Linked DNA regions of Homo sapiens. The protein of the gene in region 1 purifies or fractionates together with the protein of each later gene. This does not show direct contact. Each region holds a gene or a part of one and is shown on either strand. Other genes may lie near its edges.

The links.
Region 2: the proteins of BAG1 (region 1) and PSMD5 purify together in Homo sapiens (affinity purification with mass spectrometry; 2 studies listed by BioGRID and IntAct, with this or other methods). This does not show direct contact.
Region 3: the proteins of BAG1 (region 1) and CCDC117 purify together in Homo sapiens (affinity purification with mass spectrometry; 2 studies listed by BioGRID and IntAct, with this or other methods). This does not show direct contact.
Region 4: the proteins of BAG1 (region 1) and ANP32A purify together in Homo sapiens (affinity purification with mass spectrometry; 2 studies listed by BioGRID, with this or other methods). This does not show direct contact.

What each region holds. Positions count from the first base shown.
Region 1 is NC_000009.12:33,254,709-33,258,208, reverse strand, and holds part of BAG1 (BAG family molecular chaperone regulator 1), read left to right. Parts: intron 1-1,300; coding exon 1,301-1,408; intron 1,409-2,281; coding exon 2,282-2,344; intron 2,345-2,900; coding exon 2,901-2,990; 3' UTR 2,991-3,500. UniProt on the Homo sapiens protein: Co-chaperone for HSP70 and HSC70 chaperone proteins. Acts as a nucleotide-exchange factor (NEF) promoting the release of ADP from the HSP70 and HSC70 proteins thereby triggering client/substrate protein release.
Region 2 is NC_000009.12:120,818,923-120,822,422, reverse strand, and holds part of PSMD5 (26S proteasome non-ATPase regulatory subunit 5), read left to right. Parts: intron 1-958; coding exon 959-1,068; intron 1,069-1,443; coding exon 1,444-1,584; intron 1,585-3,500. UniProt on the Homo sapiens protein: Acts as a chaperone during the assembly of the 26S proteasome, specifically of the base subcomplex of the PA700/19S regulatory complex (RC).
Region 3 is NC_000022.11:28,775,695-28,779,194, forward strand, and holds part of CCDC117 (coiled-coil domain-containing protein 117), read left to right. Parts: intron 1-3,500. UniProt on the Homo sapiens protein: Facilitates DNA repair, cell cycle progression, and cell proliferation through its interaction with CIAO2B.
Region 4 is NC_000015.10:68,786,396-68,789,895, forward strand, and holds part of ANP32A (acidic leucine-rich nuclear phosphoprotein 32 family member A), read right to left. Parts: intron 1,525-3,500; coding exon 1,375-1,524; intron 1,141-1,374; coding exon 1,018-1,140; intron 1-1,017. UniProt on the Homo sapiens protein: Multifunctional protein that is involved in the regulation of many processes including tumor suppression, apoptosis, cell cycle progression or transcription. Promotes apoptosis by favouring the activation of caspase-9/CASP9 and allowing apoptosome formation.

The sequences.
Region 1 (3,500 bases):
TTCTCCTGCCTCAGCCTCCCGAGTAGCTGGGATTACAGGTGCCGCCTGCCACCACATCTGTCTGATTTTTTTGTATTTTTAATAGAGATGGGGTTTCACCATGTTGGCCAGACTGGTCTCAAACTCCTGACCTCAAGTGATCTGCCCGCCTCGGCCTCCCAAAGTGCTGGGATTACAGGCATGAGCCACTGCGCCCGGCCTATATGTTTGTGTTTTAATTACAGAATACATGCTGACTGTACAAAAGTTTTAAGTACATGTATAGGCACTAATATGGAAAATAAAAATTACCCATGGGGCACCAACTCAGAGATGACGATTACCAAAGCCTGAAATATATTTTTCATCTTAAAAAAATTTGATATAATGTTATTTACACTTTATAAACTATTCTTTTATTGGATAAAAAATTAAACATTTTCCTGTGATGGTATTTTTCAAAGCTCGCATGCATTTCATCTTGTATAAATGTATTATTTACCTAGCCAACTCTGTATTGTTCATTTAATATTATTTTTACCATTATGTGTAATGCTTCTTTGACTGTCCTTGGACGTAAATCTTTTTTGACCATTCCTGGTTTTTTTGGTAGAATAAATTCTTTGAGTTGGAATTGCTGGGTGATGTTTAAAGCTCTTGCTACGTGTTGTGAAATCTGTGTCTGTAGCTCGTGGCTGTGATAAACATCCTCAGAGATCCCTGCTATCCAACTCTTGTCACCAGCTAACTGGTCATTAGGCCAAGCTGTGTGAGTGAACCATTAGACAATTTGATAAAAATAAGCACTGCTGCCATTCTTTAGCATGCGTCTGTGCCACAAGTTAGTGACACATGTACATATATTCCCTTTACCTCACAGTAACCATCTAGGGTGTGGGCATCATAATCTTCATTTTTAAAATGAGGGTACTGAGGCATGAATAGGCTAAATAATTTGCTCAAGATCACAAGTTAGTAAATGGCAGTCAGTTTTCAGGCGTAGGCTTTGAAGACTCTAAACCTGTGCTTTTAACATCTGCCTCTTCTTGTGACTGGGGGCTTCACTGGAGCCAAGCCTCAGGAGGCATTTGCAGCCACAGTGGGTCATGCGAGGTAGAGCAGACTGCAACCTGATAGAATTCTTGGACTGGCCCACGGCCAGCCTTTTTAATTTTTCCAAGAGTTAAAGTTGTGGATCTGAGATGTGGCCTGGCCTGCCAGGGCTATGGTGGGCTCAGTGTGATTGCATCATTAGTATTGTGGCATGGAGTCTTCCGTCAGCCTCAGAGAACCCTTGCAATAATGCATTATTTCCCCGCAGGGTTTTCTGCCCAAGGATTTGCAAGCTGAAGCTCTCTGCAAACTTGATAGGAGAGTAAAAGCCACAATAGAGCAGTTTATGAAGATCTTGGAGGAGATTGACACACTGGTAAGTAAATATTCAGCTGAGAAGAACTAGTTTTCTTTGACTTTATTTCAGTCACATTCACTCTTTCAGTAATTTACTCTCCTATTGCCTGAGCAAACCCATCACTTGAGAATATTAAGCATCTACTATTGTGTGCCAGTCATGTTGCTAGGTCCTGGGTGAATGCATGATGATAAGACAGTTCCTGCTTTCTAGGCACTCACAGCCCTCCAGCATAGGACTTTTATCATTTACACTTATGTTTGCCAGTAGCATCTGTAATCGTCATGAAGCTGGGACCCAAGGAGTCCACGATCTCATGGTCCAGGAAACAGAGGATTTAACTTTCTCTGATGAATATGTGACTGATAATTCTGCAGGGCTCATTACTTATAGATGATTCAGCCAGACCCAGGTCATGTGAGGCCATTGAAAATCATTAACTCTTTTGCAGATGATAGTAATGATATCTCTAGCCTGATGCTTCATTCTTGAAGGTGAACTGCACTGTGTACTTCTGTTGGCCAGGGTGGGTGTAAAGAAGCAGCAGCAGGCACTTTTCCTGTCACAATGAGCCCATGGTGTGGCCAGGGCAGAGTATCCATACATAGGAAACAATAAAAGAACAAAGTCTGTGTTAAAGATCAGTTCCTATGGCCCAGACATTGAGAACACAGGGAGCTTTTATAGGGACAAGAGCCATGGAAAGGCCATACAGGATACAGACCCAGGGAAAGGGTTCCTGAAAATGGATATCACATTTACATTGGTGACCTGTGACCTGTTTTGTGTACTGTGGGTGTTTCTTATGTGCTCTCATGTCATTTTCACTGAGGATTATTTGTTACATGTTTACTATTTACTAACTTGTATTATCAACTTACTCTTCCATAGATCCTGCCAGAAAATTTCAAAGACAGTAGATTGAAAAGGAAAGGCTTGGTAAAAAAGGTTCAGGTGAGTTGTGTAATAGTGCACGACAAGGTGTAATATGTTAATGTGTAGGTATGTGTGTTTATCTGTTCAAAATCAGGTAGTGTAGGAGCGTGGTGTGTGGTATGGGCTTGTTTTGGTTATATTTATCAGCAGGAACCCCAAACGTCAGAGAAGAGCCACCTGTGTCCCTGTAATTATATTTGAATTTAAACTATTTAGGGAGGGAACTCACTGGAGAGCAGGTAGGGCTGACACATTACACAATTCCAGGAGGCAGTATTCATGCACACAGTGCTTCCTGCGATTGTGCAGTTGCTGTGCAGTGGCCCTGAGGCAAAGCTCCCTGCCTTTACCACCTTTTAGGGGATTGCTGGCCTAGAGCATGGTCAGAATGCTGGTCCTATGCTCCCTCCCTCCCCTTACCTTGGAACCCAGGCCAGTGGCCCATCTCCATTCATGCACAATCTGTTTTGAGTCTCAGCCATGGGTTCCCCAGAATGGGTAAGCAAGGAGCCTTGTGTGGGCAGTGGTCGGCTACCCCTGGATGGGCCCTTACTGCCCCGTGTGTATTTTCTAGGCATTCCTAGCCGAGTGTGACACAGTGGAGCAGAACATCTGCCAGGAGACTGAGCGGCTGCAGTCTACAAACTTTGCCCTGGCCGAGTGAGGTGTAGCAGAAAAAGGCTGTGCTGCCCTGAAGAATGGCGCCACCAGCTCTGCCGTCTCTGGAGCGGAATTTACCTGATTTCTTCAGGGCTGCTGGGGGCAACTGGCCATTTGCCAATTTTCCTACTCTCACACTGGTTCTCAATGAAAAATAGTGTCTTTGTGATTTTGAGTAAAGCTCCTATCTGTTTTCTCCTTCTGTCTCTGTGGTTGTACTGTCCAGCAATCCACCTTTTCTGGAGAGGGCCACCTCTGCCCAAATTTTCCCAGCTGTTTGGACCTCTGGGTGCTTTCTTTGGGCTGGTGAGAGCTCTAATTTGCCTTGGGCCAGTTTCAGGTTTATAGGCCCCCTCAGTCTTCAGATACATGAGGGCTTCTTTGCTCTTGTGATCGTGTAGTCCCATAGCTGTAAAACCAGAATCACCAGGAGGTTGCACCTAGTCAGGAATATTGGGAATGGCCTAGAACAAGGTGTTTGGCACATAAGTAGACCACTTATCCCTCATTGTGA
Region 2 (3,500 bases), about 88 Mb from region 1:
TTGTCATTTTCATTTTCCAGATAAGGTAGATGAAACTTAGAGGAGTTAAGAAAATTTCTAAGGTCATACAAATTATGGCAGCTGCTACTCAAGTCCAGGTCCTTTGATTCCAGTTTTATAACTTTGCCTTATATATGCTGTGTTGCGTGTAATTATGTGTTCTAGGCCTGTCACTGGTTCTCTGACTACATGCTTATTTTTGTATTGGTTTAGGTTGGTAGAGGTCATAGTGTATGAGAGCATACTTTAAAAAAATCTCATTTTTCACTTCATATCCATTAGGATGGCTATTACTTTAAAAAAAAACCCATAAAATAATAAGTGTTAGGATGTGGAGAAATTGTAACCCTTGTACATTTTATATTTCCTTCATCCAGCAGCTCCACTTTCAGGTATATACCAAAAAAAATTGAAAGCAGAGACTCAAACAAATGTTTGTACAGTCATGTTCATAGCAGCGTTATTCACAATAACCAAAAAAAGGTGCAAGCAACCCAATGTTCATTGATAGATGAATCAATAAACAAAATGTGGTATATACATACAATTGAATATTACTCAGCCTTTAAAAAGAATGAGATTCTGGCACATGCTACAGCATGGAGGAAGCCTGCGCCACTGATAACATTATGCTAAGTGAAGTAAGCCAAACACATAAGGACAGATATTGTATGATTCCACTTAGATGAGATGCCTAAAAGAGTCCAGTTCACAGGAGGTAGAATAGTGGTTGGCAGGGGATGAGGGTAGAGAAGAAAGGGAATTATTGTTTGATGGATACAGAGTTTCAGTTTGGGTTGATGAAAAAGTTCTAGAGATGGATGGTTATGATGGTTGCCCAACAGTGTGAATGTACTTAATAGCACTGAACTATACACTAAAAATGGTTAAAATGGTAAATTTTATGTTGTGTATATTTTACCATAATAAAGAAGAATCTCACTGTTATCCTTCAAAGGAACTCGCTTTGAACGCTTGCTTATGAGAATAGGACATCAATCAAAGAATGCCCCAGTGGAGCTAAAAATTAGATGTTTGGATGCAATTTCATCTCTTCTGTACTTACCAGTAAGTAGGTAGGGAAATAATGAAGGACAGTGGGATATGTTTGGGAGAATAAATCTGTATGAATCAACATGATAAATGTGATGAAGTAAATACAAGAAGATAACCCTCATTATATGACTAGTGACATTTTTAATTTAAAATGGAATCATAGAGTGTTAGAACTGAAGAGACTCTAGAGACTGCTTAATCAACCACATTCAAAGAAAACTGGGAAAGGTCTGGGCTGGATTTGAGAAAGAGTCCTCCAGACTTAGCCAGTTTCACACAACAAATTAATGACAGAGTGCCATCAGCACTCAGGTGTCTGACTTCTAAATAAGTGCTTTTCTCCAGATCAGTTAACTTTTGATGAGATTTTCCTTTTCTTTCCTGTAGCCTGAGCAGCAGACTGATGACCTTCTGAGGATGACAGAATCCTGGTTTTCTTCTTTATCTCGGGATCCACTGGAGCTCTTCCGTGGCATTAGTAGTCAGCCCTTCCCTGAACTACACTGTGCTGCCTTAAAAGTGTTTACGGTAGGTATTCACTTCCATAGGTCCTTCTGGGACCCTGCCAGCTCAACACTTGAGTACTTAACAGTGAGCCAGAGCCTGTGCCATCTCTGGGGATGCACAAGTGCATAGTATAGTTTCTACCTTCTGCTACCTTAGAGACTAAGTAAGGAGACAGATGTGTAAACAGATTGTTTCAGTAAAAGATATTAGGTGCTGTTTGAGGTTTGAACAGGATGCTATGGGATCACACAGTTAATTCCAGACTTTTTATCTGCCATCCTCTATTAACCTAGCCCTGGTCTTCCTAATCCTTATTTCCCGTGCAGAAAATAAGGCTTCTGGCACCTAATGCTCCAGTGGTACCAAACTGTTTGTTTTGTGTCTCTGGACCTTTGCTGGGGTCTCCGTATCTAACACTCTTCCTTAACTTTGCTTCTTAACCTCTTACTCACTCGTCAAGGACTAACTCCTTGTCTTCAGCACACTTTGCCCAGATTGACAAGGTTGAGTTAAACAATGTTGGTTCTCATATGTTGCATTTATTTATTCAGCAAATATTTGTTGAGTTTCCGTTTTTGCTCAGTGAAGGGCATACAACAGTGAAGAAAATATATAAAGACCTTCCTTTCATGTAGTTTCCTGTCTATTGAAGGAGCCAGGCAGTAAATATAATTGTACAGTTACTTATATAATTACAGCTGTGGTAAGGATTATACCTTTGTGTTCTATTTGTTATATTATTTTGCAAATGTTTATTTATCGACTTGTCTTACCTATTAAGTAGAGTTGGCTGAGAGCAGGAAGCATATCTGATTTATCTTTGTAGCCCCAGCATAGCAAGATAGTAATCGCTTTAGTAATCATATCAATAATGGGATCTCAGACAGCATACATGGCCTAGACTGGGAGGGAATAAGGAAAATGGCAGGGACAAAAGAGGGAAGGCTTCCTGAGGATGCGATACAGGATCTGGGTCTTGAAGGATACAGGTATTCCTATAATCTTCAGAAACATTTTTTTTTTTGAGACAGAGTCTCGCTCTGTCGCCCAGGCTGGAATGCAGTGGCGTGATCTTGGCTCACTGCAAGCACCACCTCCCGGGTTCACGCCATTCTCCTGCCTCAGCCTCCCGAGCAGCTAGCCTACGGGCGCCCACCACCATGCCCGACTAATTTCTTTTTGTATTTCTAGTAGAGACGGGGTTTCACTGTGTTAGCCAGGATGGTCTCGATCTCCTGACCTTGTGATCCGCCCGCCTCGGCCTCCCAGAGTGCTGGGATTACAGGCGTGAGCCACCGCGCCTAGCCAGAAACATTTCTTTAAGACTGCTTCACCCTTGTAAATGGTCATTGTATGAGATGGCCATTTTGGATCCTGCTTAGTATTTTCATTATTAGTTTATTTTGGTTTTGCTCTTCTACCTTATCCTGTGCTTAGCTGGTTCCATTGTAGAAATAATTTTCTATTTACTGGTTGGGATAACTATTTTTATTTCTGCCTACTTTCATGCTTGGTTGTGAAGCAGGCCAAAGTTTCTCAAACATTAATCTTAGGAATCTTATTAAAATGTAGATTCTAATTCAGTAGTTGTGGGGCAGAGCCTGGGATCCTGAAAGTCTAACAAGCTCGCAGGTGTTGCTGATGCTACTTGTCTGTGGAACACATTTTGAGAGGAAAAAACTAGGCCATAAACTTGTTACTTCTTTTTCATTAAAACGTAATAGGTTTTGAAAAACTTAATCTTAAAATTTGGAAAAGACTTAGAAGTAGAATTTTTTAAAATCACAGAAAGTTCTACCTTTTGGTGTATTTCCTTTTAGTTTTTGTATTAGTGTGTGTTTATTTTTGGTGAAATATTTCAAATATAGTTGTATCTTGCTACCTCTGCCCAGTCCTATTCCCCTTCCTCTGTTCTTAGATAAAATCACTATCACAAA
Region 3 (3,500 bases), on another chromosome or scaffold:
AAGACCAGCCTGACCAATTTGATGAAACCCCGTCTCTGCTAAAAATACAAAAATTAGCCAGGTGCGGTGGCAGGTGTCTGTAATCCCAGCTACTCGGGAGGCTGAGGCAGGAGAATCGTTTGAACCTGGGCGGCAGAGGTTGCAGTGAGCCGAGATCGTCCTACCGCACTCCAGCCTTGGTGACAAAGTGAGACTGTCCCAAAAAAAGAAAAGTAAAAAGGTTTCCCAAAGATAATATCCATGAACAACCAAATAAAAAAGCGTTCAACCTCATTAGTCTTTAGGGAAATGTGTATTAAAGCCACAATGAGATGCCACTCTACCTCCAGATGTTGGGATGCGTGTGAAGCACCAGGAACTCTTAAATATGGGTAGGAGTGTAAATTGGGACCATTAGGATCATTAGGCATCCACATTAAAGTCCTGATTTGGCATCCGGTGTGGTGCCTCATGCCTGTAATCCCAGCACTTGGGGAGGCCAGGGTGGGTGGATTGCTTGAGCCCAGGAATTCAAGACCAGCCTGGCCAAAATGGTGAAACCCTGTCTCTACTAAATACAAAGAAATAGCTGGTGTGGTGGTGCGCCCCTGTGATCCCAGCCACTCCAGAGACTGAGGCACGAGGAGAAGGCAGAGGTTACAGTGAGCCAAGATTGTGCCACTGCACTCCATCCTAGGTGACAGAGCAAGATTAGATTACCATTTTGGGATGCTGGCAGTATTGTATATCTTTTCTTTTTTTTTTTTTCCCTGGAGTTTTGCTCTGTTGCTCAGGCTGGAGTGCAGTAGCGCAGGCTCAGCTCACTGTCACCTCTGTCTCAGGTTCAAGCGATTCTCCTGCCTCATCCTCCCAAGTAGCTGGGATTACAGGCGCGTGCCACCATGCCCAGCTAATTTTTTTTTTTTTTGAGACGGAGTTTCGCTCTTGTTGCCCAGGCTGGAGCGCAATGGTGCAATCTCAGCTCAGCACAACCTCTCCCTCCCAGCTTCAAGCAGTTCTCCTGCCTCAGCCTCCTGAATAGCTGGGATTACAGGCATGTGCCTCCATGCTTGGCTAATTTTGCATTTTTAGTAGAGATGGGGTTTCTGCATTTTGGTCAGGCTGGTCTGGAACTTCCGACTTCGGATGATCCTCTCGCCTTGGCCTCCCAAAGTGCTGGGATTACAGGCGTGAGCCACCGCACCCAACCAATTTTTTGTATTTTTAGTAGAGAAATGGTTGTGCCATGTTGGCCAGGCTGGTCTAAAACTCATGACTTCAAGTAATCTGCCCGCCTTGGCCTTCCAAAGTGCTAGGATTACAGGCGTGAGCTACTGTGCCTGGCCAGTATACTGTAGCTGTTTTTTTTTTTTTTTTTTGAGATGGCATCTTGCTCTGTTGTCCAGGCTGGAGTGCAGTGGCGCAATCTCGGCTCCCTCGGCACAACCTCTGCCTCCCGTGTTCAAGTGATTCTCCTGCCTCAGCCTCCCATGTAGCTGGGACTACAGGCGTGTGATAATTTTTTGTATCTTTGGTACAGACGGGGTTTCACCATGTTAGCCAGGATGGTCTCAATCTCCTGACCTTGTGATTCGCTCGCCCGCTGGCCCTGGCCTCCCAAAGTGCTGGAATTACAGTTGTGAGCCACTGCGCCTGGCCTATTCTATATCTTAAATTATATTGTCATCATTGTTTGTTTTGTAATTATTTGTTAAGCTGTATGTTTGATGTAATTTTATGTTTGTAGAATTTTATAGTTAAAAAGGTTAAAGAAGTTTAGATTGTGATTTAATTTATATTTGTTAATTATAAGTGATACTGGACATCTTTTCTTTTTTTTTTTCTTTTTTTTTTTGAGATGGACTCTTGCTCTGCCACCAGGCTGGAGTGCAGTGGCACCATCTTGACTCACTTTAACCTCCACCTCCTGGGCTCAAGCGATTCTCCTGCCTCAGCCTCGCGAGTTGCTGGGACCACAGGCTTGCACCTCCAGGCCCAGCTAATTTTTATATTTTTAGTAGAGATGGGGTTTCACCATGTTAGTCAGGATGGTCTTGATTCCTTGACCTCATGATCCACCCGCCTCAGCCTCCCAAAGCTCTGGATTACAGGCGTGAGCCACTGCTCCTGGCTGTTTATGCAAATTTTCTATTGGCTTATTGATCTTTTTCTTATAGGAATTTTTTTTTTTTTTTGAGATGTATCCTCGCTCTGTTGCCCAGGTTGCAGTACAGTCGCACGATCAGGGTTCACTGCAACCTCTGCTTCCTGGGTTCAAGCAATTCTCTCAGCCTCCCGAGTAGCTGGGATTACAGGTGCGTGCCACCACGCCCGGCAAATTTTTTGCATTGTTAGTAAAGGCAGGGTTTCACCCTGTTAGCCAGGATGGTCTCTATCTCCTGACCTTGTGATCCGCCCGCCTCGGCCTCCCAAAGTGGCCTCGGCCTCCCAAAGTGCTGGGATTATAGTCGTGAGCCACCACGTCCTGCCAGGAAATCTTTATTAAGGAATGTTTTCTTCAAATTTATCCTTTGTCTTTTAACTTTGTGTATGATTCTTTTTGCCATTGGACACTTTGGATTTTCTAAACTTGTTGATACATAGATTCATAAAACATTAAATTTGAAAGTTCCCTTAATTTAAAAATCACTAGGTCGGGTGCGGTGGCTCATGCCTGTAATCCTAGCACTTTGGGAGGCCGAGGCAGGCAGATCACCTCAGATCAGTAGTTTGAGACCAGCCTGGCCAACATGGTGAAACCTCTTCTCTCTTAAAAATACAAAAGTCAGCCGGGCGTGGTGGTGCGCACCTGTAGTCCCAGCTACTCGGGGGGCTGAGGCGGGAGAATTGCTTGAACCCAGGAGACGGAGGTTGCAGTGAGGCCCACTGAACAGAAAATATTTATGTTCTTTATTGCCTTAGGATTACTGTGGATAACACAGGAAACTTTTTGCTTTTATCTTTTGCGGTTCTCTCTTAAGATGTTATTATAGATGCTAAAATAAATAAATAAAAAGTTTAAAGTATAGAAACTATCGGCTTAAAAAGTTAACCATCTTTAATTTACAAATGGAGAAGTTGAGGCCTTGGGAGGCAGTGGGATGAGATCTTTGGATGTCTAATGCCCAGAAGCGTGCTATCATATTATCTTTGGGACTTAATTATCAGTGATCTCTATTTAGAAAGTGGACCTACAGGCATGAAATAACTTAGTCTAAATCATGTTGTTGGAGGTCAGAGCGCAGAACCCAGGTGTTAAACTTTATTTGCATTTTATAGTGGAATTATTAGATGTGTGGGGAAATTACCTGTTCCCTTTAGATTTATTTTGCTTTTTGGGGATGTGGACTCTCACTGTGTTGCTCAGGCTGGTCTCAAACACTGGGCTCAAGTGATCTCCTCCCTCAGCCTCCCAAGTAGCTGGAACTGTAGGCACACACCACGACACTCGCCTTATTCTGCTTTTTCTTAGCTGTTTTTTGTAAGTATAACTATTTTCTGCTTTTCAAAATATCACATAC
Region 4 (3,500 bases), on another chromosome or scaffold:
ACTACAGGCGTGTGCCACCACGCCGGGCTAATTTTTGTATTTTTAGTACAGATGGGGTGTCACCATGTTGGCCAGGCTGGTCTCAAACTCTTGACCTCAGGTGATCCACCTGCCTTGCCCTCTCAAAGTGCTGGGATTAAAGGTGTGAGATACCACGCCCGGCCTTATGAGGTGACTCTTATATGTATATTCACAACAGGTGTATTTACTTCATGTGGTAGTATTTCCTATTCCAAAAGAGTTGTTTTCAGTGACACATCTTACAGCTGATTTCCTTAAAATCAAAGGAATACAGCGAATCAGATCCTGGTAATTATAGAAAGTGTTGTTCTGAACATGACCTGCCCCTTTCTGGCTGGTAAATCAGTGAAGCTTAGGGGATGTCTATCTCTACAAGGATGAGCAGAGGAGCCAGAAATGCTACCCAGGCCCCTGAGAGCCTGTTCACTATCGCAACAAGGACTGGTGACCAGGGGTCACTCTTCTCCACACCACGTTGAGGAAGGCCTGCCTGCACGAGGCTCTCACACCACACGGCTCTCAGTCATTCCAGGGTTCTATGTCAGGACTGACTCATTTCTCACAGTTCAGGGGCCAGCGACCCAAGGAGAAAACTGGAGTCCACCTCCAGGGCCAGTTTAATTCTTGGATTGCTCCTCCCTTCCCAAAAAGGGGCAACAAGCCATGCCCTGAACCTGAAGACATTACAGCTCAGGTTTCCAAAGCTGAGCAGAAACTGAGTGGAAAAGCAGGAGACCAGAAATTGAAACTAGGGTTCTACGCTACCCGTACAATAGCTGCCCATTCTGTCTGTGACCTTGGTCAAGGTATTTAACTTCTCTGGGCCTCAGTTTCTCTATGGACTCAGCAGAAACAATAGCTCAATTCTATCTCATAGCACATCATGAGAGTCAAAAAAATTAAGTGGGAAAAGGACAAATGCAAAAGTAGTATTTGCTGATGCCAATTCCTCCCACCTCCTACCCCTGCAGGGAGGGGAGGGTCCGAATGACTTACCAGTGGCTCTATTGTGCTGAGGTCTTTAATTTTGTTGCCACTTAAATTTAGATGCGTGAGGTTCGGACACTTTTCTGCCAATACTTCCAGGCCCCCTGAGACTCTGTTATCGCTTAGTTCAAGCTAAATAAGGCAGGGAAAGAAAAAGCAGAAACAGCTTTTAAAATGAAGGCTACCGGCTCAGAGCTGCCCGGCTTTCCCCAGACGGGCAAGAAGGGAAAGCAGTCTCAGGCAATTGTCTGGCATGTTGGTGCAAGCACCCGGCTTTCCCTTCAATTACTCTTTCTAAACATAGGTAATAACCCTTCCCACTCCCCACCCCCGCCTCCCAGCACACACAGACTCCACTCTATTTACCTTCTTAAGTTTGTTTAACTTTGGTAAGTTTGCGATTGAGGTGAGGCCTACGTTGATTGTACTTAAGAATTCCAGTTCTTCAAATTCATCTGTGAGGCCTTCGAGTTTGCCTTCATTCGACCGACTGTTGTCCAGGACAAGTTCTTTCACCTGAAAGAAGGCCCGACCGTGTGAGCGGGGCTGAGGAATGGGGCTGAAGCAGGGGGAGGGTGTTAGAGGACTCCTCAGAGAACAGGGAGACAGACGCAGGAAGCAGTCAGTCACTCCGTCACTTCTTCTAGCTTTCCGGATCACTGTGCTGCCAACGACCACAGGATGGATTTGCCCACCCTGACTTTTCTGCCTTTTCAACATCTGGGTGAGAGGAGGCCTGTGGTGAGCCGAGCTGCAGAACCAGGGGGCCACTCCAGACAGGGGCCTTGGCTGTACCGCAGAAGACAAACCCAGTAAGCCCTGCTGCCTCTGCAAGGTTGGTGGTCTCATTCCAACCCTGCTCTCGCATTCTCCCAAAACCCACATGCACCAGCCACAGCATTGTTAGGGACTTCTGGGCCTTGCCCCGCCACCCCAATGCCCCCACAAGACCCCCACATGCCCAGTTGCTTTCACCCACTCCTGCCATCACAGCAGAGCCTGCCGCTGTAGCTGGCATTCACATGGCAGTACCCATGTGGCCTGTCCTGAGGCAGGCGCAGCAGACCAGGGGCTCCTCCAGCTCTCCCACCTCTAGCCCAGCACTGTCCAACAGAACTTCCTTCAAGGACGGAAACGGTCTGTACTGTTCAAGACAGGGGCCACTAGTCACATGTGGCCACGGAGTGCGGCCAGTGAGACTAAGGAATAGAGCTTTTAATTCTATTTAATTTCAATTAATTTAAGTGTAAACAGACACAGGTAACTACTATATTGGATAGCACAGCTCTAGACTTTGCTCTTCACGGTCCAGCATAGACGTGGAAGGAGAATGGAAACCCACAAACTTAGGATGGGCCCATAATGAAATGCTGAGATCTGTCTCAAAGTCTGTGCTTGGAGGCACCTCTGTGGCCCTGTCTTTTTCCCCACTCAGCTCCCTTACCCACAATTTGGGTCCTAAATCCTTTATTTCTAATGAGGTAGAAAGAACGAATAAAAAGCCACCCTCTCACAGGGTTGTTAAGAGGTAGACTTAGCTGAAGGTGAAACTGCAGGTTCTAATGAAGAAGGTAGAAAGACAGGCCGAGGAAAAGTAACCAGGTCGCAGGCATGAAATGACCCTGGGAGTAAGCAAAGGAGACCCGGTGTGTGGCCCTCCAGGCAGCTGGCCCAGAGTTCTCCTTCCTGCCCCAGAGCAGCCAGCTTCTGGGAAACCCGGCCTCTCTGGACTGGAAGACACCTTAAATGTGATCCCTGCCCACACCTGGTATCTCAAAGAGTCCCTTCAGCCCAGGACACAGCAGCCCAAGCTCCCTGCAGGTGCCAGGAAACACTTACCAATGTCAACTGGATTTGTTGCCTCCCTCCCTGGAACTTCCATGCACAGGCCCTGATTTCTCACCAATGGGTCACATGGCACAAGCCTTCCTTCTCAACAGCAGTCCAGCATTGTTCAAAGGGTTGCTCCTGCCCCTCAGGGCCTTTTCTTCTCTTGGATAAGCAGCCAGGCTTTCTAACCTGTCCCTGTCCAGGGCTGCTCCTGCTCCTTTGAGCAGGCCAACATGCCTAGCTTCTTCTTTCTGGGCCCAGAATGACTAGGTGCCCCTCTTACTCAGGCATCTCTGGGCCAAGTAGAGATATGGGGGAAAGGAGGTGGAAACAGAGTCCACATGAGGCCTGCTATGCCCCTCCTCAGCCCCCTCTTGCCAGTGGGCAGAGCAGGGGAGCACTGGGGTACACATCTGGATCTCAGAGTCCTGCAGGGCCCTGCAACTGCCCTGCCTTCATTCTTCACTGGTGGGTGGAGGCATGCCACTCCGCCCGGGACAGCAGCAATTTGTGGGTTTCATCTAGCACAGCCCACAGAGCAGGAGAACCAGGGAGCGCAGCCCTCTCCTGGAGCTAAGGAGCTCTCAGCCTAGGAAATGGTCACCAAAGCCCACCTTCCTGTTGGGTCTGGGAGGGGGAGGCTCAGTCCTTTCCCACCCCCT